Homo sapiens: one gene and its partners. The protein of the gene in region 1 interacts with the protein of each later gene in a pairwise test. Each region holds a gene or a part of one and is shown in the gene's direction. Other genes may lie near its edges. The genes, in order: MSRB2, DGLUCY, PEX26 and NDUFV2.

Region 1 (7,035 bases):
CAGGCACTTGATGCAAGTTAGTAATGATGTTTTTGTTGTTTTGTTTTGTTTTTTGAGATGGAGTCTCGCTCTGTCGCCCAGGCTGGAGTGCAGTGGCGCGATCTCGGCTCACTGCAACCTCTGCCTTCCAGGTTGAAGCGATTCTCCTGCCTCCTGAGTAGCTGGGATTACAGGCGTGTGCCACCATGCCTGGCTAATTTTTTGTATTATTAGTAGAGACGGGGTTTCACCATGTTAGCCAGGATGGTCTTGATCTCCTGACCTCAGGTGATCCACCCGCTTTGGCCTCCCAAAGTGCTGGGATTACAGGCGTGAGCCAGCGCACCCGGGCGTAATGATGTGTTCTTAAGCAATAGATCCCTCTTAGGGCTGTATACATGAATGCGCTTTTGATCCTGAGGAATTCTGGAGGATATATTCTAATTAATGAGAACATACAAATGCAGACTATATTCCTGAGACTTCTTCCTGTTCAAGAGGAGTTTTAGAAATATATTCTGGTTTTGCCTCTCATTTTCCTTCTCTTTCTGTCTCTGGTCTCCAGTCTCTATAGTAGGAAGCAGAGGTACAGAAAAAATAATTCCTTCAAATGCTTGTGTGGAGTGAAAGTGAAGGGAAAGTTGGTCAACCAAAACTAAGTAGTTCTTTTAACAAGTAAATGCAGGGCTCACTCCTTTGAGCTCCCTGCTCCAGCTTGGCTGCTTCCTGCCTGGGACTTCCCTTCATGCTGAGCTGGCCTCCTGGGATCTGCTCAGCCCCACTAATACTAATTGAAATTCCACTTATTTTTGGATCCCAGATTTCTCCTGAAACCTTCTCTGATAGCACACACCATGGGTTTTTTTTTAATCTGCTTCAAATTCCTATTAATTTATCAGTATCACACAATTTAGGACCTAATTATTCTCCTATTGGATCAAGTATTTTATTTAGTTAAGGAGATAAACTTGATTAGCTTTCGAGTCCCTTGGCCATCTTATGCTTCTTGGACAAGGCTCATGGAAGTTGTTATGGGATGAATTGTGTCTCCCAAAAAGACATGTTGAAGTCTTAATCCCTGTAAGCTGGGAATGTGACCTTATTTGGAAATAGGGTGGCTGCAGGTATAATTAGTTTAGATAAGATCATATTGGAGTAGGGTCAGCCCTAATTCCAAAATCACTGCTGTCCTTATAAGAAGAAGAGAAGCCCAGACAGAGAGGAGACAGCCATGTGAAAACGGAAGCAGAGATTGGTGATCCGCAGCTACAAACCGAAGACTGCCTACCTTAGAAGGTAGGAAGAGGCAAGGAGGGATTCCCTAGATGCTTCAGAGCCCTGTGGACACCTTGACTTTGGACTTCTATCTTCAAGATTGTGAGAGAGTACCACCCATTTTGTGGTACTTTGTTACAGCCACCTTGGAAACTAATACTTAGATGCTCCATAAGTACGTATTGATTGGTTGATTAATAATATCCATCCTGCTGCTTAGACATCATAGCAATGTTGGGACTATCAGAAGCTGTGGTTACGGGCTGAACGTGGTGACTCATGCCTGTAATCCCAGCACTTTGGGAGGCCAAGGCGGGTGGATCACTGCAGGTCAGGAGTTCGAGACCAGCCTGACCAGTATAGCAAAATCCTGTCTCTACTAAAAATACAAAAACTAGTTGGGCGTGGTAGCACATGCCTGTAATCCCAGCTACTAAGGAGGCTGAGGTAGGAGAATTGCTTGAACCCAGGAGGTAGAGGTTTCATTGAGCTGAGATTGAGCCACTGCACTCCAGCCTGAGTGACAGAGTGAGACTCCATCTCAAAAAAAAAAAAAAAAAAAGCTGTGATTATGAAATCACTGTGAAAATGTGAGGGAAGTGGCTGCAACTTCTTGAGCACTTACATGCCAGACACTGGGCTCTAGTACTTTGCAAACAATCCTCACCCTCCAATAAGGAGCTATTAAGACCCTCACTTAACAGATGTGAAAACTGAGGCTTAAAGAATTTAACTAACTTGTTCCAGGTCACTTGTCTAGTAAGTGATAGTGCAGGGATTTGGGCTCCACTGCACTCTTCTTGAGAGTGGGAAGCACCCCAGCAATGAAGGAGCCCTCTGGGCACGCGGCAGGTGCCATGCCCAGGCTCTTCATGTGCATCGTTTCGTCAGACCTCTCGGCAGCTCCCCGTAGTGTTATTATCATTCTCATTTCACGTGAGGAAACTGAGAGCTAGGAAGATGAAATAACTTGTCCAGGGTTCTGCAGCTTACAGGTAGCCAGCCAAAATATGAACCCACAGTTTTGGACTCCAGAGCCCACATTCTTCACTAGCTGAGCTTCCATTAAGCCACACGGGCAGCTCCGTTGACATAGGTGCCATCGCCTTTTGGTGCCTGCTTTCCTTATTACAGGTGTAAGTTTCCCAGAAGACATAACCAGCCTCTGAGAGTGATCCCAGCCAGTGTAACTCATGAGTTCCCTTTCCAGAGCCTTGTTCCCAGCCTCATCCACCAGACTTAGCGTCATTCTCCTCATCATCCTATAATTGTTGGAATGAGTTTGGTGCACAGTTTTGGAGAGCTTCTGCCTCTCCAAATCAGACACCTTTAATCAAAGGTGTCTGGGTCAAGAACACTTTCCAGAATGTGTTGTCACACTCCTAGGGACTCCAGACTCTCTTTCCTTAACTCGGAATGAAGTGACATTGCCCATCACTGCCACTTCCTCTCCTCCTTCTCCCTTTCTTCTTCTACATGAGCCTATTTGGAATGTGTTTATTAAAATCTATTGTGGGATCACATATTTCATGATCACAAATCTTCTTAAAATAAGAGGAAACAGAGCCTGATACTAGTTCACCTTTTACGTAATATCCTGATGTCGTATGTACCATGAGTAACTAAGTAATATTGTTAAAAACCTTCTGTATGCCCCATTCCCTCAAAGGAATAGAAATTCTTCTAAGAGGTTAGGGTTGTCAGTTATCACCAAGTGCCTGTGCTGTTGGTTTGGGACCTGTAGAACTTCCAGAAATCAAGGAAAACCAAAGCAAATAAAACGAAACAAAGTAAAAATCCCTTAGAGTATATGATTCAGAATGGTTTTAGTTCTTCAAGGGCAAACCTTACAATCTGCTAATCACTTAAATATGTATATTGGAATTTCTGATTGGCTTTAATATTTTGGTTCCCAGTCTTAACTTATATATGTTAGGCCTCTCATATTACTTGGTAAAAATCTCCCGATTCTGCTAATTGCATCAATAAAGGTTTATTGTTTCCCATAAAATGCTTTAATGAGTTTTTATTAGCCTTAGTTTCATTTATTTAAAAAATTTTATTGTATTCATAATTCTCAATCAAAATACCTTTAATGATCACTAGTTGATATATAATGTTGAGGATGGAAAGACTGGGATTAAAAGATACTTAATGATGTTTTTCCCTGAGCAGAGTGGCCAGATGAATGTTTTTGAACCCCTGGAGGAGGGTTGCAAAGAATCCGACCTGAATATGCAGACATTTCTAGTTGGACCCACAACTGCTCACATTCCATAGATTTCTGGTATTAATAATAAAAAAATATTAAAAAATAGCTACCAACTCAAGTGCCATGTGTCAGGTACTATGCTAAGCACACACACAGAAAGTGAGGTGATAATGCCATTGCTATTGTTAGCTTAAAACAATCATACAATCTATAAATTTAGAAAAGGAGACTTTATTTCTTCTAAAGGGTTACAGCCTTCAAGGTGGCCATCCTACAGGCTGGGAAGCGAGCTCCCAGCCAAGAGCAGATGCAGGCACTTGGAAGGGGGAGCAGCTGGGGTAGGAGCTTTATGCTGAGAGGGTTGGCTAAATATACCTATTTAACAGATCACAGAAGGGGCTATGAAAATTTGTGAAGATGGTCCTGACATACACATATTGAACAAACATGCATGTAACATATGACCTATGTTTATTTGGGGGTAGAAACTTAACATTTAAATGTATTATAATTAGATCCTATACATCAAAAGGTCTTTCAGGATATGAAGGCCCACAAGTGCACAGCCTCTGTAAACCATCCAGAACCACTTCATGGTCTTTTAATCAGGAGAAAGTTACTAAAATCAGTCTCTTGTGCAATCAAAGCTGTAGTTACGGCTGGTGGAACAGAGGGTCTCAGCTAGTCAGTGTCTGATGGTAGATGAGCTGCAATTGCTTCAACACTGCTTATCTCAAGGCCAGTGATTGTTTAGCTGCTAGAGAAGAAGAAAACCCCTGTGGCAGTTAGAGTTGATTCTTTAAGTGTAGGGGTGCATGACTTCACCCTCGCCTGGCATGGCCTTAGGTCCTGTTTATAATTTGGTATATTATTGCCACAAAGAGGCTGTTCTGCCAGTCTTATGATCTCTATTTAAACATTAATGCTGGTCATTTGTTGTGTCTAAACCACAAAAGGGAGAGGGTATAATGAGGTGTGTCTGACCTCCTGTCCCATCATGACCGGAAACTCGATTTAAAGGTTTTTCTGGAGTCCTCTTGGCCAAGAAGGGCTCTATTCAGTCAGTGGGTGGCTTAGAACTTTATTTTTAGTTTATACTTATCTATAGACTAGGATGCTGAGGCTTCAAAAAATTAAATGACTTGCCAAGGTGATACAGATGTAACAGACAGATCCCAGATTCACACACAAATCTTTCAGAAGTCAAAGCCCTTCCTCTAATGGCTATACCTGTGGTTCTTAAAGCCTGGTCTGAGGACCCCAGAGATTCCTGGGGGGGACCTTTCTAGGGGCTTTTCCAACCACACTTGAGACCACTTGAGGCCACATCCTCTTATACTCCAATCAAAACAACATAGCAACAGACTGAATTCAGAGGCACATATGAAGATTCAGTTGTCTTTTTTTTAAGCCGGATGTTAAAGAGCCTTGCAAAATTGTAAAACAGTGCAACTCTTCTCATGAAATGTTTGTTTCATTTTGAAAAGTATAATTATTTGCCTTAAATATATGTTATGTTAACATATAATAAATTTATTTCAGGTTGAGCATCTCTACTCTGAAAATTCGAAATCTGAAATGCACCCAAATCTGAAACTTTTTTATTTTTTGAGACAGAGTCTCGCTCTGTTGACTGATCTCCACTCACTGCAACCACTGCTTCCTGGGGTCAAGTTATTCTCCTGCCTCAGCCTCCCAAGTAGCTAGGACTACAGGCATGCACCACCATGCCCAGCTAGTTTTTCTATTTTTAGTAGAGAGGGGGTTTCACCATGTTGGCCAGGCTGGTCTCGAACTCCTGAGCTCAAGTGATCCACCCGCTTCCACCTCCTAAAAAGCTGGGATTATAGGCGTGGGCCACCACGCCAGCAAAATTCGAAACTTTTTGAGAACCAACATGCTAGTCAAAGGAAATGCTCACTGGAGTATTGCAGATTAAGGATGCTTAGCCATCAAGTAAAATGCAAAATTCAAAAAGATCTGAAATCCGAAACACTTCTGGTCCTAAGCATTTCAGATAAGGGGCACTCAACCTATATTAAAAAAAAATTAATGCACACATATTTTTAAATTCTCATTTATAATGTATAATTTGTTAAATGTTGACATACGTAACTCACAGACAAAAGCTCTCAGCAATCCCTATTAATTTTGGGGACACAGAGGGGACATGAGGGGTGCCGAGACCAAAATGTTTGAGAATTGCTGCATTACACAATTGTTTCTGTGGGAGTTTGTGCTGCCAGCTAGGCTTCCTTCTGTGTTCATAGTCTAGGGATTTGATTCTTTGCTACTTTTTCTTCTTAGATTAGTTTTTTGTTTTTTTTTTTTTTTTTTTGGCTGGGTCTAACATTCAGTTCTTCTCTTTCTTCCTTAGATAGAGAGAGCCATTTCCTTGCCACAGCAATTTTTGAAGTCTATTTTCCCAGTGCCATTTAAGGGAGCTTATCCATGAGAGCACTTAGAGGGTGGGTCTTTGGTGAGTGGATTTGCCTGCTGTCCTTCTCCTTGTGCCAGCATCATGAGTCCCTGGGAGACTTCTGGAGGGTTAGGTTTCACTGCAGTGATTGATGCCAGGTACCCAGGCGTATTAATTAATACTAATCATCACCATCACAGCAAGCATTCAGGGAACTTACCATGTGCCCAGCACCGTGCTAAGCTTTATGTCACACTTCAGTTTCCCCTCAAATCCTCAAAACAGCCCTGTAGGGTAGATATTATTCCCATTTGCTAGGTGAGCAAACTGAGGCTTCAAGAGCTGTGGTTTCACACAGCTAAGAAGTGGCCAGAGGCAGCTTTTGAATCCCTGGTCAGGCGTCTGTGTTGAGATAACCTGAAATTCCTGTTGCCAAGCATGACTTTCTCATCAGACCTTACACTTCTGCGCTGCTCTAAGATGATGATGACTTCCTCCGAGCATTAGTATTTCGTTTTGATTTCTCCCCTTTTGACATTTTCAACACATGGGTTTGATCTGTGTTACCTAATATGCAACACAGTTCACAAAACACCATGTGTTTTTAGATCCTTGTTGGATATCCAGAAAGAAGTCTTTAGCATCAAAGGATCAAGAAGTCCTTCCACTTCGAGAGGCAATGGCTTCGATAGTGAAGGTGCAGTGAGGACGATTCCGGGGGGACTGACTGTCGAATAACTGGGCATGGGATCTGGCAGAGGAGAGTGGGAACAGATCCTGCTGCCTGGAACAACACATCGGGGCACCTCTTGGCATGTTAATGACAGTGTCATTAGCAGCTGTAGTATCGTTTATGTCTTCCACAGTTCTGAGAAAAAGTACTGCTCTGGCACTGGGTGGCCTTCGTTTTCCGAGGCTCATGGTACGTCTGGCTCTGATGAAAGCCACACAGGGATCCTGAGACGTCTGGATACCTCGTTAGGATCAGCTCGCACAGAGGTTGTCTGCAAGCAGGTGAGGTTTCTCATTTTGTTTTACTTTCCCTGATGCTGCCCCCAATGCCACAAAGAGCTCTCTTGTTCTTGGCAAATCTGGTGTCCTTTTATAGGGGTACTTTCTTTTGTCTTCAGAACACATGGGGTTTCTTTTT
Region 2 (4,095 bases), on another chromosome or scaffold:
CTCTCCTGCCCTGTTGTCTCAGCCTGGACTGGTGCAGTGGCCTTCAGGCGCCCTGCCCTCCAGCTGCTCCCTGGTAATTCTCTGCCACTGTTACCACCTCTGCCTCTTAGAAGATGGCATGGTCATTCCGTGATTCTTGGAAATTTGCAGGGAGTAGCTGTTGGCCCAGCTGGTCCCTGTGTCTCTTGGAGGCTGGGTGCCAGTCAGCTCGAAACCTGTTGGCTGATTGCGTGCACCCTGAGGACCCCACAGCCCTTCCTGGGGCCCAGAAGGATGAGAATGGTGAGGGAAACAGTGTGCTGTGAGGAAATGGCCCCAGGAGTCCCAGAAACATTCCCCCATAAAGAGAGGATATGACCAGTGGAGAAGAGAAGCGAGAGGAAGAAGCCCAAACAAAGGGCGGGAAATGCCATTCTGAGTGGGTAGCTCCTGAGAAGGAGCTGTTGGACAAAGGACACATGTGAAAGTGGAAACAATTTAGGGCCTCCCTCCTACAGAGGAACATCCTTCTTGGCCCCCAGGGCAGAACAGAAATGCAGGCTCTCAGGCCAGCTGTGAAGAGACAGTTTGCAGTTAACATTTGCCAATGCTTTCTCTATTACTTAGAAAAAGTTAGTGAGTGACCCTCCAGGGCTCTCAGCTGGCTCATTTTTATTCTTTCATCACCTCTGATCCTAGTTGCCCCTTGTCGTAGCTCAAGCTGCTATTTTAAAAAACAACTATAGACTAGGTGGCTTGAACAACAGAAATTTAGTTCTCACAGTTCTAGAGATTGGGAAGTCCAACATCAAGGTGCCAGTAGTTTTGATTCACTGGTGGGGACTCTCTTCCTGGCTTACAGATGGCCGCCTTCTTGCTGAGTCCGCATGTGGTGGAGAGAGCGAGAGCTCTGGTTTCTCTTTTTCTTATAAGAGCACTTCACATCCTGACCCTCACTCATGACCTCATCTCAATCTTATTACCTCCCAAAGACCCCACTTTCAAATTCCAACAATTGAGGATTAGGTTCAACATACAAAATTTGAGGGTACATATTGAGTCCATAACACCCTGCCTCCAGAAAATGTTCCCTGAACCATGCCAATAAGCTGGGTTGGGTGCCCCTGCTCTGTGCTGTGACATCCTGTACTATGACTACCTGATTACTCATCTAGACTGTGAACCCCATGGGGGCAGGAACCATGTCACATTCACCACTGTATCCCTGGTTCAGGGCCTGACACATACTTAGCAGGTGTTCAATAAACCTTTGATCAATGGTGGGATGAATGAGCAAATGCCTGAGCAGGGAGAGAGCCTTCTTATAGCCGCCCTAATGTCCTATTCTAGATTCCTTAGGTCCCCTCCTCTCACCTCCTGCCTTTGTTGTGGAGGAGGAAGAAGACAGGGAGAAGGAAGAGGAGGAGGAGGAAGAAGAAGAAGAGGGAAGGATGTGTTTGAGTTGCTTTATGCCTTCACTTAAGGCTCACTGTCCTTAGGGGAACCTGAGCTGTTCACTAGGGACAGACACATTAGTGGCTTGGGCAAGTGGTGCTTTGGGATTTTATTTTTGGAAGGAGGGGGGATGGAGGAGGATCAAACCACTTTTTTTTTTTTTAACCAGCAGGAGAGCAAAGGGAGAAAGCTCTAGGCTAAAGGCCAGAAGACCTAGCCCTGCCAATAAAATCAACCTCATTTTGTGAATGCCTGTTGTGTGCCAAGGACCCTGCTAAGTGCTTTGCTTGTACGTAATCCTCAGAACAACCCTCTAAAGGAGGCATGATGAGTACTTTTATCATCACCCTCCCCATTTTACAGATAAGCACACTAAGGCACAGAACAGTTAAAATTCCTGCCAGGAAAGACTCAAGTCAGACCTTTCTGATCCCCAAACCACTCTGCCTGCTAGGCCCCGGGCTGCGGCTTCAGGATGGGGGCTTGTATTCTCTGTGACTCTGCTACACCTAGATGCTCCCACTCCCACAGTCACCCTGGTCATTTCTAGAAGGCAACAGCAGCAGGATTTGACACATGCCCCACATTAGGCTAAGAGGTCTCAGGAGAAATGGGGGCCTTTGGCACAAAGACTATTGGCAGATAATCCAGGGCTGGGAGGAACTTATTGGCAGGAAATAGCCTGCACTGCACCTGCAGGAGGAGTGAATCTTCAGTGTTGGTTAAGGAAATGCAGGCTGGCCGGGCACAGTGATGTGCACCTATAGTCCCAGCTAGTCAGGAGACTGAGACAGAAGAATCACTTGAGGCCAGGAGTTCAATACCAGTCTGGGCAACATAGCAAGACCCCATCTCTAAAAACGGACAATCAAACTAAGAAACTATGTTTCCATTAAAGCATATTATTTAGTTACATAACAGTAACTACCAAAAGAAGCAGCCCAAACTATTCCCGTGATTGTTTCTGGGGAGTAGATTTGGGGGCCAATGAGCTGTGATGGAGGACACTTACTTTTCATGACTTTTCCAATGGTATTAGTACTTTAAACCAAAATTTTACTTTTTTAAAAAGCAAGTATGTCAAGGCAAAGGATCCTTCTCACTTATAAATGTGTATAAAAGAAATTTCTTTTTCCTCCCCCTCCACTCCTTCTATTTCTGCCCTATTTTTTTCCAGGAAGAAAAAATGCTGGGCATCTTGGTGCAGCACAAAGTCCGGAGTGGCGTCTCGGGCATCGTGGGCATGGAGGTGGATGGGCTGCCCTTCCACAACACCCACGCCGAGATGATCCAGAAGCTGGTGGACGTCACCACGGCACAGGTGTAACCGTCCATGTTCCGTGTGAGCAGAGTCCCTACCAACGGGCAGGTCTGCATCCGGGGAGAATGCAGCTGCTTCTGGCGACAATCCTGCTAGTAAACACTGGTCTTCGGTGAGCAACGAACACTCGCCTGGCCTGGGAAACTGCATGCCCACTTTCTGGGAGGGGTTAGTGCAGGTGCTGTGGACAAAGGACAACATTTCTCTGGGGCTTTTTAACTTTTATTCCTAAGACTCTAAAGGCGTTGATTTCAACCCTCCTTCACTCTGGCTTCTTCAGGCAACCCACGTGGTCTCCTGTGAGAATCTTCTCGACAGTTACTTATGGGGACACTTGTGAACAATTAACTGCCAGGCAGAGCATGAGAACAAACATTCCCAGGCCATGTAGGATAGGATACTCCAGACTCCAGTCATCCTCCCCCATCCATGGTTTCTGTTACTCATGGTTTCAGTTACTCATAGCCAACTGCAGACCGAAAATACTAAATGAAAAATTTCAGAAATAAACAACTCTTAAGTTTTAAATTGTGTACTCTTCGGAATATCGTGATGAAATCTCACACCATCCTGCTCCATCCTACCTAGGACGTGAATCCTCCCTTTGTCCAGGGTACCCGTGCTGTCTACACCACCCGCCTGCCAGTCACCCAGCAGGTGATCAGATCGACTGTCATGGTATTGCAGTGCTTATATTCAAGAACCTCTTATGTGACTCAGTAATGTCCTCAAAGTGCAAGAGCAGAGATGCTGGCAATTTGGATATGCCAAAAAGAGGCCATAAAGGGCTTCCTTTAAGTGAAAAGGTGAAAGTCTTTTTTTTTGTTTGTTTGTTTTTGCAGTTGCAAGATTTAATAGAGTGAAAACTGAGCTCCCATACAAAGGGAGGGGACCCAAAGAGGGTAGCCATTGCTGGCTCGAATGCCTGGGTTTATATCCCGATCATTGTCCCTCCTGCTGTGCTCTCAGGCGATAGATGATTGGCTATTTCTTTACCTCCTGTTTTTGCCTAATTAGCATTTTAGTGAGCTCTCTGATTGGTCGGGTGTGAGCTAAGTTGCAAGCCCTGTGTTTAAAGGTGGATGTGGTCACCTTCCCAGCTAGGCTTAGGGATTCTTAGTTGGCCTAGGAAATCCAGCTAGTCCTGTCTCTCAGTACCCCCTCTCAACAGGAAAACCCAAGTGCTGTTGGGGAGGTTGGCTGACAACTGCTCTAACTGCTTCCTGCTGAATTGGGGCGTAGTAGGGGTTGTGCAGTTGAGATTTCCTCGGGAGGGGTGCCTTCGATGTCATCAACATCGGAGCATGGGCTAGCAGGCCGGTCCAGGGGTCCATGGTAGA
Region 3 (7,035 bases), on another chromosome or scaffold:
CCTCCCTGCACTTCCTCTACAAGCTGGCCCAGCTCTTCCGCTGGATCCGGAAGGCTGCATTTTCTCGCCTCTACCAGCTCCGCATCCGTGACTGAGGGTCCCTGCGCACCACAGCCTCTCTGCTCCTCACGTCCGTGGCCACAGAAGCAGAGCGACAGAGCGACACATCCACAGGCGCCCCTGGGGAAATGGGACCAGCCTAATCTCGCGGAGTGCACTGTGTCTTGCTGCCTGGGTGCCCTCTCCTTTGCACCCTACTTCGGCTGGTCGCGGTAGATGATGTGGAAACAAAGCAGGACCAGCAGGCACAGCACCTCCAGAACAGTGCCCCGGATGACCAGAGGCCCCTTGAAAAGGAGGGGTTTGGGGACAGGGACTGTGTCCATGAAACATTCCATCTTCTTGGTGAAGGCAAGGGGTTGGTTCTTCAGGTCAGGATGTTAATGGAGCTGGAAGTTCAGAAAAAGCCTGGTGAAGTGACCCTTGGCCTTTCACTTCTTGAGAAACATACTTCTTTGCTGGGCATGGTGACTCACGCCTGTAATCCCAGCACTTTGGAAGGGTGAGGTGGGTGGATCACTTGTGGCCAGGAGTTCAAAACCTGCCTGGCCAACATGGTGAAACCCCATCTCTACTAAAAATACAAAAATTAGCTAGATGTGGTGCACGCCTATAGTCCTAGCTACTTGGGAGGCTGAGGCAGGAGAATCACTTGAGCCAGGGAGGCAAAAGTTGCAGTGAGCTGAGATTGTGCTACCGCACTCTCTCAAAACAAACAAAAAAACATGCCCCACAGGACAGTACCTTAATTAGCTAGAGTAGATCTGAGAGGGCCTCTTCTTGCCTGCACTGTGCTCCCCAGAGCTGATCTAATTCTGTATCAATAGGCTGTTCCCATGGTCTTGCCATGCGCTTGAAGCTGCAGGAGCCTTCTCACTGTTCAGGCTGGGGTGTGGTTTTCAGAACCACCGGGTTGACTACTGAAAACCAAGTGAGCCTTACAGCTCTTATCGCTGGGTAAAGTGATCTTGCCTGGTGCCTCTTGGTCTTCAGCTCAATTTTCCAGGTTGTCCTGGCCAAGTCTTGCTCTGTTACGCTCAGTGCCTCTGCCCACTCTTTCCCCGCCAGCCCTTCCCTCCCGCCCTGCAAACTTGTCCCTTGGCTGTTTCACCAGGTTCTGCCTGTATCCTTGCCTCCTTGGTACACACCATTTCAGGTTCTTCCCTTTCTGTGTCCCATTGTCCTAGTTATGTTCTGTTGTTTGTGTAATGCCCAAATTTTTCTGCTCGTGTGGCCTTGAAAAGTAGGCCAGCCTCAGAGGCTGCTGAGCTGAAAATGGAACTGAGTAATCAGGTGAGCTGGAAGGGATGTGGGGGGCGGGGCAGACGGGAGACATGGGTTTTGAAGGCAGTGAACAATAAAACCTTAGGGAGGTGGCACCGAGGCCTTAGCATTTGAGGAGCTGAAATGTTTCAGTGTTGTTTTCTCACCAGCCACAAGCATCTTATGAGTTTCTGTGCAAGGAAGCGTAGAGCACTGCTGTGCTGTCAGGATGAAGAAGGGCTTTCTGCAGGGGCTGGCCTTTCTCTACCCAGAGGCCAAGCAGGCTGCCCTGCACTGTGTCCTTGGTGTTGATGCCCAAAATAGAGAAGGTGCTTGCTAGCTTTTCCTTGGTACATTTTCGGGGGTTGCAAGGCAACAAGTTTTCTTTTGTTTTGTTTGTTTGTTTGTTTGTTTGTTTTTGAGATGGAGTCTCTGTCACCCAGGCTGGAGTGCAGTGGCGTGATCTCAGCTCACTGCAAGCTCCGCCTCCCGGGTTCATGCCATTCTCCTGCCTCAGCCTCCCGAGTAGCTGGGACTACAGGTGCCCACCACCTCGCCTGGCTAATATTTTTGTATTTTTAGTAGAGTCTGGGTTTCACTGTGTTAGCCGGGATGGTCTCGATCTCCTGAACTTGTGATCCACCCACCTAGGCCTCCCAAAGTGCTGGGATTACAGGTGTGAGCCATCGCGCCCGGCCAACTTTTCTTTAGAAAAATGAGTAAAGTAGGTAAACTTCACAGGCCCCTTAGAATTAAATCCTTAGGGCATGGTTCAAGTCTGTAGGAAGCAAATCTATACTTTTTTATATGGGCTTTTAAGTAAAGCTTAGAACCCTGGGGGGAGAAAAGCAGTCAGGTGAGGTTTGAGATTCCTTCTATAGAATGATTTCTTAAAATGAAAATCTGGGCCCACTTAACTACCCTAGATAAAACGCTTCAATGGCTTCCCATGGCTCACTGGATAACATCTAAATTCTTCATGGAATTGAAGGCCCCTATGTGCTGGTTTTGGCTAAGATCTCCCCTTTGATGTGGGTCCCCTGTTGATTATATGTGCGGCCTTCCAGCTGCCCACCATCACAGCTACAGCTCGCTCCCCTTGGCCTCTGTGCCTTGGCTCGCACTGTTCCTACTGAAGGCCTAGCACCTGCTCTTGGCCTGGTGAGCCCCTCCACCTTCCAGGCTTACTCAAAGAATTCTTTCTGCCCCTCCCTGTGTCCCGGGACCTGTTTCATATCGCTTCTGTGGTCGTGACCCCATGGTCTTGTAATTGTGAACTTCTTTGCTGCCCCTTCGAAGCTGGGGAGTGCTTGTTGCAGATGCATCCAAGAGGGGTAATTGCGTATCAACAGTGGATTTGCTGGTTGTTTCTACAGGGTTCTGAAGCATGCAACATAGAACAGATACCTTTAAATTTAGGGGCGCTAAGGAAAGCAGGAACCAGTAATCCTCTTCTGTGGTGGGATGGGAGGGTGGGGGAGAGGGGTGGAATGGAGAGGAAACAGGCTATTGTTGGCCAGCCCTGGGTGGAGGTGGGTGCAAGCAGGACAGATAGTGCCTGGGGGTGGGGGCGGAGGGTTCGCCTCTAGGAAGGGGCTAGAAGGGATGAGGAAATAGTTCATAGCTTCGTGCAGGTGATCCCTATTCTGCGTGTATGTGTTTGCACATGAGTGTTTGTAGACCATAGACCATTAAAAAATACGGAATTCAAAAGTTACAAAAAGGGTATTCTTGGAAAAGAAAGTTGTTTTTTTTTAGTCTTGCTGTGTTGCCCAGGCTGGACCTGAACTCCTGGGCTTGAGCAAGTCTTCCCCTCAGCCTCTGGAGTAGCTGGGCCTACAGTGTGTGCTGCCACACCCAGCTAATACAGTCTTTCTACTCCCGCTCTCTATTCCCCAGTTTCTTGCCCAGAGGCAACCCTTGCCAGTCTGTTTATCCCTCCAGATACAGTCTCTGATAGTAAACTTTTCTTTCTCTTACACAAATGATAGTAGTCACATACACTACACACACTGTGCCACGTTTAAAAAGAAAAAAAACAATTCTCGGCTGGGCGCGGTGGCGCATGCCTGTAATCCCAGCACTTTGGGAGGCCAAGGTGGGTGAATCACCTGAAGTCAGGAGTTCGAGATCAGCATGGCCAACATGGTGAAACCCCATCTCTACTAAAAATACAAAAAAAAAATGAGCCGGGCATGGTGGTGGGTACCTGTAATCCCAGCTACTCAGGAGGCTGAGGCAGGAGAATCACTTGAACCCGGGAGGCAAGGGTTGCAGTGAGCTGAGATCGCGCCATTGCACTCCCACCTGGGCAACAAAGAGTGAAACTTGGTCTCAGAAACGAAACAAAACACAAAAACCTTTCTCAGTCCCAGCATATGTGGAGCAGCCTCATTCTTCATAGCTGTGTGTCATTCCGTTGCGTGATGGGGTCACAGAGCACAGACCTGGTGCCCTTTTCCTTTTTAATATGTGGAAACCCCTCCATGCTTTCCAAAGCCTACAAGTACAGCAGCCCCAAGTTTAGGGTGAGCAGCAGTGGTCAGAGCTCTTTACTATTACTTTTGGGCAAACGCAAGCCAGGCTGGCAACCACCACTGCCGCCGAGGGGAGATACAAGCAGGCCAGTTCACACTCTGGACGTTCAGTTTCTTTCTACATCTAGAAGGTGGCCTCTGCTATCCACTTAAAGCAGCCCAAGGAACTGTCAGAAAGCGAAAGTGATGACATGAACCGCGAGTAGGGCACCTCCCTGTGCCGTCGTCTGCTTTCCTTCCTCCCTCCCAGCCTCCCTGTGCCGTCCTCTGCTTTCCTCCCTCCCAGCACGGAAAAGCCGTGGGGCCGATGGACTTTGGCCTCACATCCACAGATGGGGCCTGTGGGAATTCTACTGATTTACTCTCTGGCCTAGTCAAGCAACCCACCCACGGCCTGGCCAAGGTCGGCCTCACCGCCCTGGCCTAGCACCTTTGGAAACTGAATACATGGAGTGTTAACCAGAAAAATGTCTGGCCCTTTTGCCTCGCTGCCTCTGGAAACCTCAGTGTTTCGGGCTGGTAGGAAGCTACAGGACAGACAGTGGGCACGGTGCCTAGCAGCCTGTCGCGCCCCCGCCCGCCTCTGCATTCCTCCAGCGGTGGTGTACGGATCCAGACATTGTTTGCCACCTCTAGGCCTCTTGATAAAACAGCAAGTATTTTTCTTGTCTTAAAGCAATGCATGTATATTTTAGAAAATATTAATTGCATAGAAGGAAATACAGGACTCGTGATCCCACCACTCAGAAATAATTACTATTAATACGGTTGATTTTCTTTCAGCTTTTTTCCCCCTAATTAATTAACTAATTCTTTTTTTTCCTGCAACTCCTGCTTCACAGACTTTTTTTTTTTTTTTAACTTGGCATGGTGGCTCACACCTATAATCCCAGCACTTTGGGAGGCCAGAGTGGGAGGATTGCTTGAGCCTAGGAGTTCAAAGCTAGCCTGGGCAACCTAGTGGGACCCCATTTCTTTTTTTTGGGGGGGGGGTGGGTTATAAAAGCCCTTTTATAAAGCCAATTTTAAACAAGAAAAAAACAAAAAGTTTACAAAAGAAAAAAAGATACAGAAAAAGAATAACTTGCTTCATATGTCCCAAAAAGAGAAAAAAATAAACGGGACAATGCCAACATGCTCAACAATAAAGGGTTCTTTTTCTTACTTTTTTAATACAAAATACAAGCAAAGGATACACATACTTAAAACAGAGCTCAGGAGCAGACACGCAGTCCTGGGAACCCTTCAATAAGAGCAAAGCAGGAGTTTGTTTTTTCTTTGTGCAGATACATACAGAGACTGGGATATGTAAAAATTAAGTATCACAAAAGACCATCACACGATTCTACCAATGCATGTTGCATCTATAATTCACGAACATGGTCAACAAGATCATGTTCACTTCAACCCCATTTCATTTAAATTAAAGAAAAAAACCTGGCCGGGCGCGGTGGCTCACGCCTGTAATCCCAGCACCTTGGGAAGCCGAGGCAGGTGGATCACGAGGTCAGGAGATCGAGACCATCCTGGCTAACACGGTGAAATCCCATCTCTACTAAAAAAATACAAAAAATTAGCCGGGCGTGGTGGCGGGTGCCTGTAGCCCCAGCTACTCGGGAGGCTGAGGCAGAAGAATGGCGTGAACCCAGGAGGCGGAGCTTGCAGTGAGCCTAGATGGCGCCACTGCACTCCAGCCTGGGGGACAGAGCAAGACTCCGTCTTAAAAAAAAAAAAAACAAAAATAAACCTTTTAAATAAAGTGGTTACATTCTAACTTTAACTTCCTTAGTACCATGCTGCAGGTTTCAGCACTGTTAAGGTATTGCAAGAATGCCCAACCCTCTGGTGTCTGATTGTGTATCTAGCAACATTGCAGTATGAAGAAAAGAGATGCCCCGGGTACGACCCCATTTCTATTAAAAATAAATGTAAACACCCAACCCTCTTGGCAGCCCATGCACTTGAGAACCTGTAGAAAATGGCAGTGTGCAACCAGCATGGCTGCGAGCTCAGCGTCTTCACTAGAGAGAGTGGAGGTGGTTAGGAAAGGGCAGGCGGGAAGGGGCCATGTTGGCCGGACAACTGCAGGTGAAGATGGGATTGTGAAGTACAGTCCAAGGCCCACTCACCAAGGGCTGGATCCAAATATGTGGGGTTGGGATTCTGTGACCTACTTCCAATTTTAATATTGACCTGAGCTCATATTTAGCTCTACATGTTTCCCAGCTCGTATTTTCCAACAGCCCCTTTAAAACTTTTAGCATCCTCTTGTCACTTTTGTACTATCCAAGGTGGGACGGACAGGTGTCAGATAATAGCAGAGACTTGGTGAAGAAATGAAAGCACTTTTGTAGAAGAGTGTCATTTCAGAAAAAAGCCTTTTTTTTTTGAGATGGAGTCTCGCTCTGTCACCCAGGCTGGAATGCAGTGGCGTGATCTCAGCTCACTGCAAGCTCCGCCTCCTGGGTTCACACCATTCTCCTGCCTCAGCCTCCCGAGTGGCTGGGACTATAGGCGCCCGCCACCACGCCTGGCTAATTTTTTGGTATTTTTAGTAGAGACTGGGTTTCACCGTGTTAGCCAGGATGGTCTCGATCTCCTGACCTCGTGATCCGCCTCCCACAGTGCTGGGATTACAGGCGTGAGCCACGGCACCTGGAGAGAAAAAAGCTTCTTTAATGACGACCTCAACATAATTTACATGGAGAAGTTTCTTAGGTGGAAAACCGATTTGTATGGTCCTCAGAATGTAACCTACAGGTTCTTGCCCTCAGAAAAATGCATGCATACTTTTATGTTACAGGCTTATTTTCCAAATGCGGTAGAGGGCCATCCCTTCTTTGGCTTCTTGCCTTGTCTCTGACCCCACTGACTGCCCCTTTTCTGCCTCCATAGCTAGTTTCTTATTTTCCTTTGGCTTTTTTTTTCTTTTCTTTTCTTTTCTTCTTTTTTTTTTTGAGATGGAATCTTGCTCTTGTCACCTAGGCTGGAGTGCAGTGGTGCGATCTCGGCTCACTGCACCCTCCTCTTGGGTTCAAGCCAGCGAGGTAGATATTATCATTTTAGAGACAGCAAAACAGACTCAGAGGGGCTAATGTGCCCAGTGCCCCACCGCTTTTAAATGGTAGAGCTGGGATTTGAATCTAGGCATACAGGTACCAGGATTTCTGTTCTT
Region 4 (7,035 bases), on another chromosome or scaffold:
CAGTGGGGTTATCTGGACTTAATCGAGGAGCATGCTGAATACTTATCATTTTCATACAGTTGTAAAGTTGGGAATTTGCAAGACAGGCAATTGTAAGTCAGCGACCCATCTGTATTGTGTATTTTTTCATTCATCGAGGATATTTTCCTTTATGTCTTTAGGCATGATTATAGCTGTCCTGAAGTTTGTGTCTGGTAATCTTAGTTGATTTTTTTCTTGAAAATGTGTTTTCCTTTTTTGTTTGTTTCCCATATGTTGAACAATTTTGGATTGTATGCTGAATTTTGTGAATGATACGTTGTAGAGGCTCTAGATCCTGTTTTATTCCTCCAAATAGTGTGTTTTGTTGTTGCTATCCATATCCCTTGTGGGCAGCAGATCAAATATTGGTTCCGTTCTTTTAGCTAGGCTCCTTGGAGTCTGCAGCATGTACATGCATGGTTCAGGGTTCAGCCAGAGATTTCCGTAGAATTTATATACAGAATGTATAGGGCTCCCTCCCCCTTTCTGGCTCTTCCTTTTCTAGGATTTCCCACTTTACCATGTCTGTTGTTCCAAACTCTCACTGAGGCCTGCCTTCAGGCTAAAAGATGTGAAGAAAAAACAAAAACCTCATTGGTTTTTTATGAATGTAGACTCCCCTTCTGTGTCTGCCTGTTTGGTTGTTCCCCAGTGCCTTCAGAAAGCTTTTGTTTTTATAAAATATTTTGTCCAGAGTTTATAGTTATTATTCAGTGGTTTGCCCTGACAGTGTCTACTTAGCCATACTAGAAGTATGCCATCTTGTGTGGTGGTACTTTTCCTTCCAAATTTTAAGTTTTGTACAATGAAATGTTTTCCCCATTCCATTAGAGATTCTTAAACTTGATTTTGTAATGTCCCAGTGTATCTCCATTGTGACTCAAAGGACTCTAAAGAAGTTAATGTAGGAAAAACACCCCAAAACATTTAGTTTTTTATTCCTGCTGTAACAAATTTCCACAAAACTTTGTGGCATAAAACATTATATTTTTAACCTTACAGTTCTGTAGGTTAAAAGTGACACAGGTCTCAGTGGGCTAAAATTAAAGTGTAGCCCGAGCTTCATTCCTTTTTGGAGGCTCTAGAGGTGAATGTCTTTTCTTGGCTTTTCCAGCTTCTAGAGGCTGCTCTTGGCCCCTTCTTTCATCTCCAAAGCCAGCAAAGGCAAGTCTAGTTCTTATATCACATCACTTCGACCCTCCTGGCATTCATCACATATCCTTCCTTGCCTCTTGGTAAGAACCCTGTGATTGATGACATTGGGCCCACCTAGATAATCCAGGATAATCTCCCTATTTTAAGGTCGGCTGATTAGCAGCCTTAATTCTCTTTTGTTGTGTAAACTAATACTCACAGGTTTCCAGGATTAGGATGTGGTTATCTTTGAGAGACCATTATTCTGCCTGCCATAGCCATAAATTAGCAGTTTAAGGAGAGAGAGAATGAACAAACTTTAGTTTATGCAGTGAGGTTCAGTAGGCCACTATTGCAAACTGCAGACTCGGATCTTTTTATTAGAGACTTGAACTCAGTTTCCATTTCAAAGTAATAAAAAGTTGACTTTCCTTTCTCTTTGGGCACTGTTTAGTACCTTAGTGCTCAGAACATTGAGTAATAAATTACAGGTCTGTTGCCCATGCTGTATAACCTATTGAGTGACAGTCAGTCTGATTTTCCAATGAGGAACCTTGTCACTAGTTTTTGAATCAGTTCAGGAAGCATGTTATAAATCAGTTGTAGGAAATGTCTTTCATTACAAAACATCAAAGACAGTTTACACACATTTTGGTTAGGGGGAAGGTGGCTTTATCTGTCGGATATTTTGCTAGGTGTTACCCCATTTTATGTGTGAGATATATGAAGATTGCTGGACAAATAAATGCCCAAGATCACACAGTAGTAAGGGCTGGGTTTATTCGCAAGTCCTGTTTTGTTTTGTTTTTAATCTACCTTTCTGAAGTTGCTCAAACAATTGAAGTTGCTAAGGGAAATCACTATGTATGGTGAAGATTTAAATTTAATAGGCACTCTAATAATAAAAGGTGTACCAGTGTAAGCAGACTAGGGAAATGATTTCACTTTGCTTAGGGAAAAGAGATGGAGGTTTAGGGGCTTTAAAGGGGTAGGAGATGGAGGTTTAGGGGCTTTAAAGGGGTAAGAGGAGGAGGTTAACCTTGGTCATGATGGATGAGTGGAAGGTGTAAGTTGAGATAATGCTGTAGGTATAGCTAGCTACATATACAAAGACACTGAAGTGCATGAGGTGAGACTGAACCCCGGGTCCACTGGATGGGCATTTCATTTCTATAAATTATTCTTGTCCTTAGAACAATTGGTTGTTGCTTATATCCATGTGGGATTTTAGATATCTAAAGAATGTTTTCTTTAATATATGGTCAAGATGGCTGGAATCATTAATGCTGTTATCTTAATCTGTAATGCACAGTGCCTGTAATACCTGGGCTCTTCATGCAGCTTTTCTATAATATAAAATTTAGCCAAATTACATTTGTTAATTCTCTCATAGTATGGTAAAAATTACTTACATTTTAACCTGAATTAACATTTTTAGGTAAATTACTGATGGAACTTTATTTGGAGGATGTTTGTAAAAGTCCTCCTATTTCTATCTGAAAATACAGCAAAACTTAAATTTTAGTGGTTAAGGCATGTACTGAAGTCAGGAAAATCTGTATGTGGCATTTCATTTATTTAGCTGTGTGAGCTAGGGAAAGTTTTTCCCCCTTCTTTGAGCCTTAATTTTCTCACCTGTAAAACAAGATAATAATACCTACTTGGTAGGCTTGCTGAGAGGAATAAATGGATTATAGTGTAGATTTGTAGTTTATAGCATGAGATCTGACATAGAGTAAGCATTTGTATTTATGATTATCCTTGAAATAGATTTCACAATTATTAACCCAGCATCAACTTTGTTAAAATAAAATGCACTGAAAAACTTTTGTTTTTCATGGAATTTTTTTTTTTTTTTTTTTGAGACAGAGTCTTACTCTGTTGCCCAGGCTGGAGTTCAGTGGCGTGATTTTGGCTCACTGCAACCTCTGCCTCCCGGGTTCAAGCGATTCTCCTGCCTCAGCCTCCCAAGTAGCTGGGATTAAAGGTGCGTGCCACCACACCCGGCTAATTTTTGTACTTTTAGTAGAGATGGGGTTTCACCATGTTGGCTAGGCTGGTCTCAAACTCCTGACCTCCAGTGATCCACCTGCCTCGGCTCTCAAAGTGCTGGGATTACAGGCATGAGCCACTGCACCCAGCCTCAAGGATTTTTTTTAAATGTAAAATTACCTAGTCTGAATGAATGTATTGCAGACCCTGACTTTTTTAGGAGGTTTCAGTTTTCTTGCTTGAGCTGGCAATAGGGGAGGCTGTAGGTAACAAGTCAGCAGATGTTGTGAACAGTGAGAGGAAGGCACGGAGGGACCTCAGACCACTTTGGATTCACTAGAGATGTTTCATGTGTGCACTGTGACTCTTGCACAGGCAAATAGATATCTTGGTGGATTTAATCTGTAAATATTAGGGATCATCTAAAAGGTATATTCCTTGCCTTAGTTGGCCTCTAATAAAGGAAAAAAGAAGGGTTTTTGAATTGCCTGACCTTAGTCTTGTCTTTCTGACTAATTAGATTACTGCTTCTGTCAGTTTTGTCTTACAGCTTCTTAGTCTCTTATTAACTTCTCTTAGCTGGATGCATTTATAATGCAAATGTCTGATAGAACTGAAAAGTGAGCTTCGTTGGATGGTAGTATTGTTTGAACAACAGAAGAAATTCAGAAAAAGAGTAGAGCCCATGAAAAGACAATTAAGGAATCCTATTGGGGAGAATATAAAACTTTAATTTTTGTCATTTTGAGCTATTGGTATTGCCAGTGACAGTAAAAGGGAAAGGCTGGTAGAAAGAGCACAGGGCCCTTAGATTGAAAGAGCCTGGGCTCAAAATCCAGGTCTGTCACTAATTGTGCGGTATGGGGCAAGTTACTGTCTTTGAGCCTGAGTTTCTCTAAATGTAAAATGGAAATAATGACTCACTACAGATTTTTTAGGAATCGACGAAAAAAAGTATGTAGAAGAGCTTAACACAGAGGCACTCAAGTTTACTTGACTCCAACGAAAAGGCAGTCACTGTTTTGGCCTGCTTAAATCTTTTCTTTTCCTTCTGAAACACTGAAAAAAAAATAAGCTAGAATTCAAACCCACTGTTAATTTTGAGCTGTATATTAGGTTATGATCTTATTTACTTAAAAAAGTTACTTGGTTGCATGCTTTTCTTCTTAAAAAAAGGAAGTTACTTGGATTTTCAATTGGACTCAATTGGAATTTCTTGAGGTATAGACATTTCAGAGTCTAATGAGAAGCTAGATTCTAGAGAAAAGACTAGACTGTACTCAAAGAAGGGGGTGGGTGGGAACTCAGCTTATTCTTTGAATCATTCCAGCCTAGCTAGGTTGTTTTTTCCAGTTTTAAGCCTGGTCCTGGAATGCCTCTTTATTTCAAAGTGAAACAAAATTGAAATGGCCCAGTAAGTAGTGTAAAGATGTTAATGAGAACTTTTAATGTTTTATTCCTTTATTGAAAGTGTCTGACGTAGACATTACAATGAATGTAAAATAGGTGATATTCTTTAAACACACCAAAAAAACAATTTTCAAAGCCATTTTCAGGCCACCTGTAACTTGATAGGGATGAATAACAGTTTATGCCAGTTGAAAAAAACCGAGAGCTAAGATTTATCAGTTTATCTTCACTATTTAGTTTGTTTCTTTCTTTATTGTTTGTTTACTTACTACTTTTTTGAGACAGGGTCTCACTCTGTCTCCCAGGCTTGGGTGCAGTGCATGATCATGGCTCGCTGCAACCTCAACCTCTTGGGCGCAAGCGATGCTCCCACCTCAGCCTCTCAAGTGGCTGGGACTACAGGCATGTGCCACCATGCCTGGCTAACTTTTGTATTTTTTGTAGAGACAGGGTTTCACCATGTTGCCCACGCTGATATCAAACCCCTGGCTTCAAGCGATCTATGGGGCTTGGCTTTCCAAAGTTCTGGGATTATGGGTGTGAGCCACCGTGTCTGGCCAGCTTCTTTTATTTTATAAACATTATCTCAGCCCTTCTTATACAACTTTGAAGAGGTCGACTTCGGACTTTGAAATTAAGTTGCTCAAATGTTATGCTAGTGTGTATACGTTCAGGTTTTTTGCAGGAATAGAAGAGAAGGGTGGCAAGGATTAAAAAAAGATTAAATAACTTGCATCTTTCTCTCTTAACAGGAGCATTGTAAGCCAAGGAGGCAGGGCTTTTCATTTCTTATCTGCCTGCCTGTATATATGGAGGCCTGATTTTCTTCCTTAAACTCCTTGGTTTCTTAGACCTACTATGTTCTTTTAAAGCTTTGATGTCATCAAACAGTCAGGTGGCTAATAATAAGGTCATGGCCTTTGTAATCATCTGGCCCTAGGATCTAACATAATTTCTGCCAATAATTAGTGATGTGACCTAACCTTGAGAAGTTTTCATAACTCATTTAAATTTCTGGGAATAATACCCACCTTGCAGGAAACTTTAAGAATTAAATAATGTGTAAAAAGCTTAGTGCCTGACACATAGTACTTCTAATAATAATAGCTAATGATAGCCAACACTAATACAGTACTTACCATCTGCCAAGCAGAATATTAAGCACTTTACATGAAGTACATCTTTTTTTTTTCCCCCCGAGACAGAGTCTCACTCTGTTGCCCAGGCTGGAGTGCTGTGGCACGAGCTGGGCTCACTGCAACCTCTGCATCCTGAGTTCAAGCGATTCTCCTGCCTCAGCCTCCTGGTTAGCTGGGATTACAGGCACGTGCCACCACGCCCAGCTAATTTTTGTATTTTTAGTAGGGATGGGGTCTCATCATGTTGGCTAGGCTGGTCTCGAACTCATGACCTCAGGTGATCCGTCCGCCTCAGCCTCCTAAAGTGATGGGATTACAGGCATGAGCTACTGTGCCCGGCCTGAAGTACATCTTTTAATGCTCTCAAGAACCCTATGAAGTACATGCCGTTATTTTTCTGTTTTTATAAATGAGGAAACAGGCTCTAGAGCTGAGCTTTTAGCCATTTTGCTATATTGTCTCTCCATACATAGGATATTTATGGAATATTAGATAACAGTGATACATCCCACCTTCAGAGGTGCTAGAATGTGGAAAATGTGTTTATTAGAAATGATGAAATTGACATTTCATATACTAGAACGTGTTTGGTGTTGGTCATCTTTTACACCACACTCAGCATCAGAAGGGTTTTTTTTTTTTTTTTTTTGATAGAGAATCTCGCTCTGTCGCCCAGGCAGGAATGCAGTGGCTCGATCTCAGCTCACTGCAACCTCCACCTCCTGGGTTCAAGCAATTCTCCTGTCTCAGCCTCCCAAGTAGCTGGGACTACAGGTGTGCGCCACCACACGCGGTGAATTTTTGTATTTTTAGTAGAGATGGGGTTTCACCATATTGGCCAGGCTGATCTCGAACTCCTGACTTTGTGATCTGCCCACCTTGGCCTCCCAAAGTGCTGGGTTTACAGACGTGAGCCACTGCGCCTGGCCAGAAGGATGGTACTTTTAAAATTAGTTTGGTGATATTAGACAGGATGTTTTGGATTGAGAAAAAGGGATCAGCCAGAAGACTTACAGTAATGCACAGACATGAAATAATGTCTGAAATAGTGGTGATAGTAAGACAGGGAAAGAACTAAAGACTTCATTGGGTTTTTTTGTTTGTTTTTGTTTTGAGACAGGGTCTCACTTTGTCACCCAGACTGGAGTGCAGTGGTGTGATCTCAGCTCACTGCAACCTTCACCTCCCAGGTTCAGGCGATTCTCCCACCTCAGCCTCCTGAGTAGCTGGGACTACAGGTGTGCGCCACCACACCCGGCCAATTTTTGTATTTTTTGGTAGAGATGCAGTTTCACCACGTTGGCCAGGCTGGTCTTGAACTCCTGACCTCAAGTGATAC

The links.
Region 2: the proteins of MSRB2 (region 1) and DGLUCY interact in binary tests that used the Homo sapiens proteins (3 or more experiments, as listed by UniProt).
Region 3: the proteins of MSRB2 (region 1) and PEX26 interact in binary tests that used the Homo sapiens proteins (3 or more experiments, as listed by UniProt).
Region 4: the proteins of MSRB2 (region 1) and NDUFV2 interact in binary tests that used the Homo sapiens proteins (3 or more experiments, as listed by UniProt).

Annotation. Positions count from the first base shown.
Region 1 is NC_000010.11:23,112,553-23,119,587, forward strand, and holds part of MSRB2 (methionine-R-sulfoxide reductase B2, mitochondrial precursor), read left to right. Parts: intron 1-6,493; coding exon of another isoform or gene 6,494-6,623; exon of another isoform or gene 6,624-6,751; coding exon 6,752-6,899; intron 6,900-7,035. UniProt on the Homo sapiens protein: Methionine-sulfoxide reductase that specifically reduces methionine (R)-sulfoxide back to methionine.
Region 2 is NC_000014.9:91,222,073-91,226,167, forward strand, and holds the end of DGLUCY (D-glutamate cyclase, mitochondrial isoform b precursor), read left to right. Parts: intron 1-2,611; coding exon 2,612-2,761; 3' UTR 2,762-3,560; downstream 3,561-4,095. UniProt on the Homo sapiens protein: D-glutamate cyclase that converts D-glutamate to 5-oxo-D-proline.
Region 3 is NC_000022.11:18,087,981-18,095,015, forward strand, and holds part of PEX26 (peroxisome assembly protein 26), read left to right. Parts: coding exon 1-95; 3' UTR 96-7,035. UniProt on the Homo sapiens protein: Peroxisomal docking factor that anchors PEX1 and PEX6 to peroxisome membranes. PEX26 is therefore required for the formation of the PEX1-PEX6 AAA ATPase complex, a complex that mediates the extraction of the PEX5 receptor from peroxisomal membrane.
Region 4 is NC_000018.10:9,105,692-9,112,726, forward strand, and holds part of NDUFV2 (NADH dehydrogenase [ubiquinone] flavoprotein 2, mitochondrial precursor), read left to right. Parts: intron 1-6,346; exon of another isoform or gene 6,347-7,035.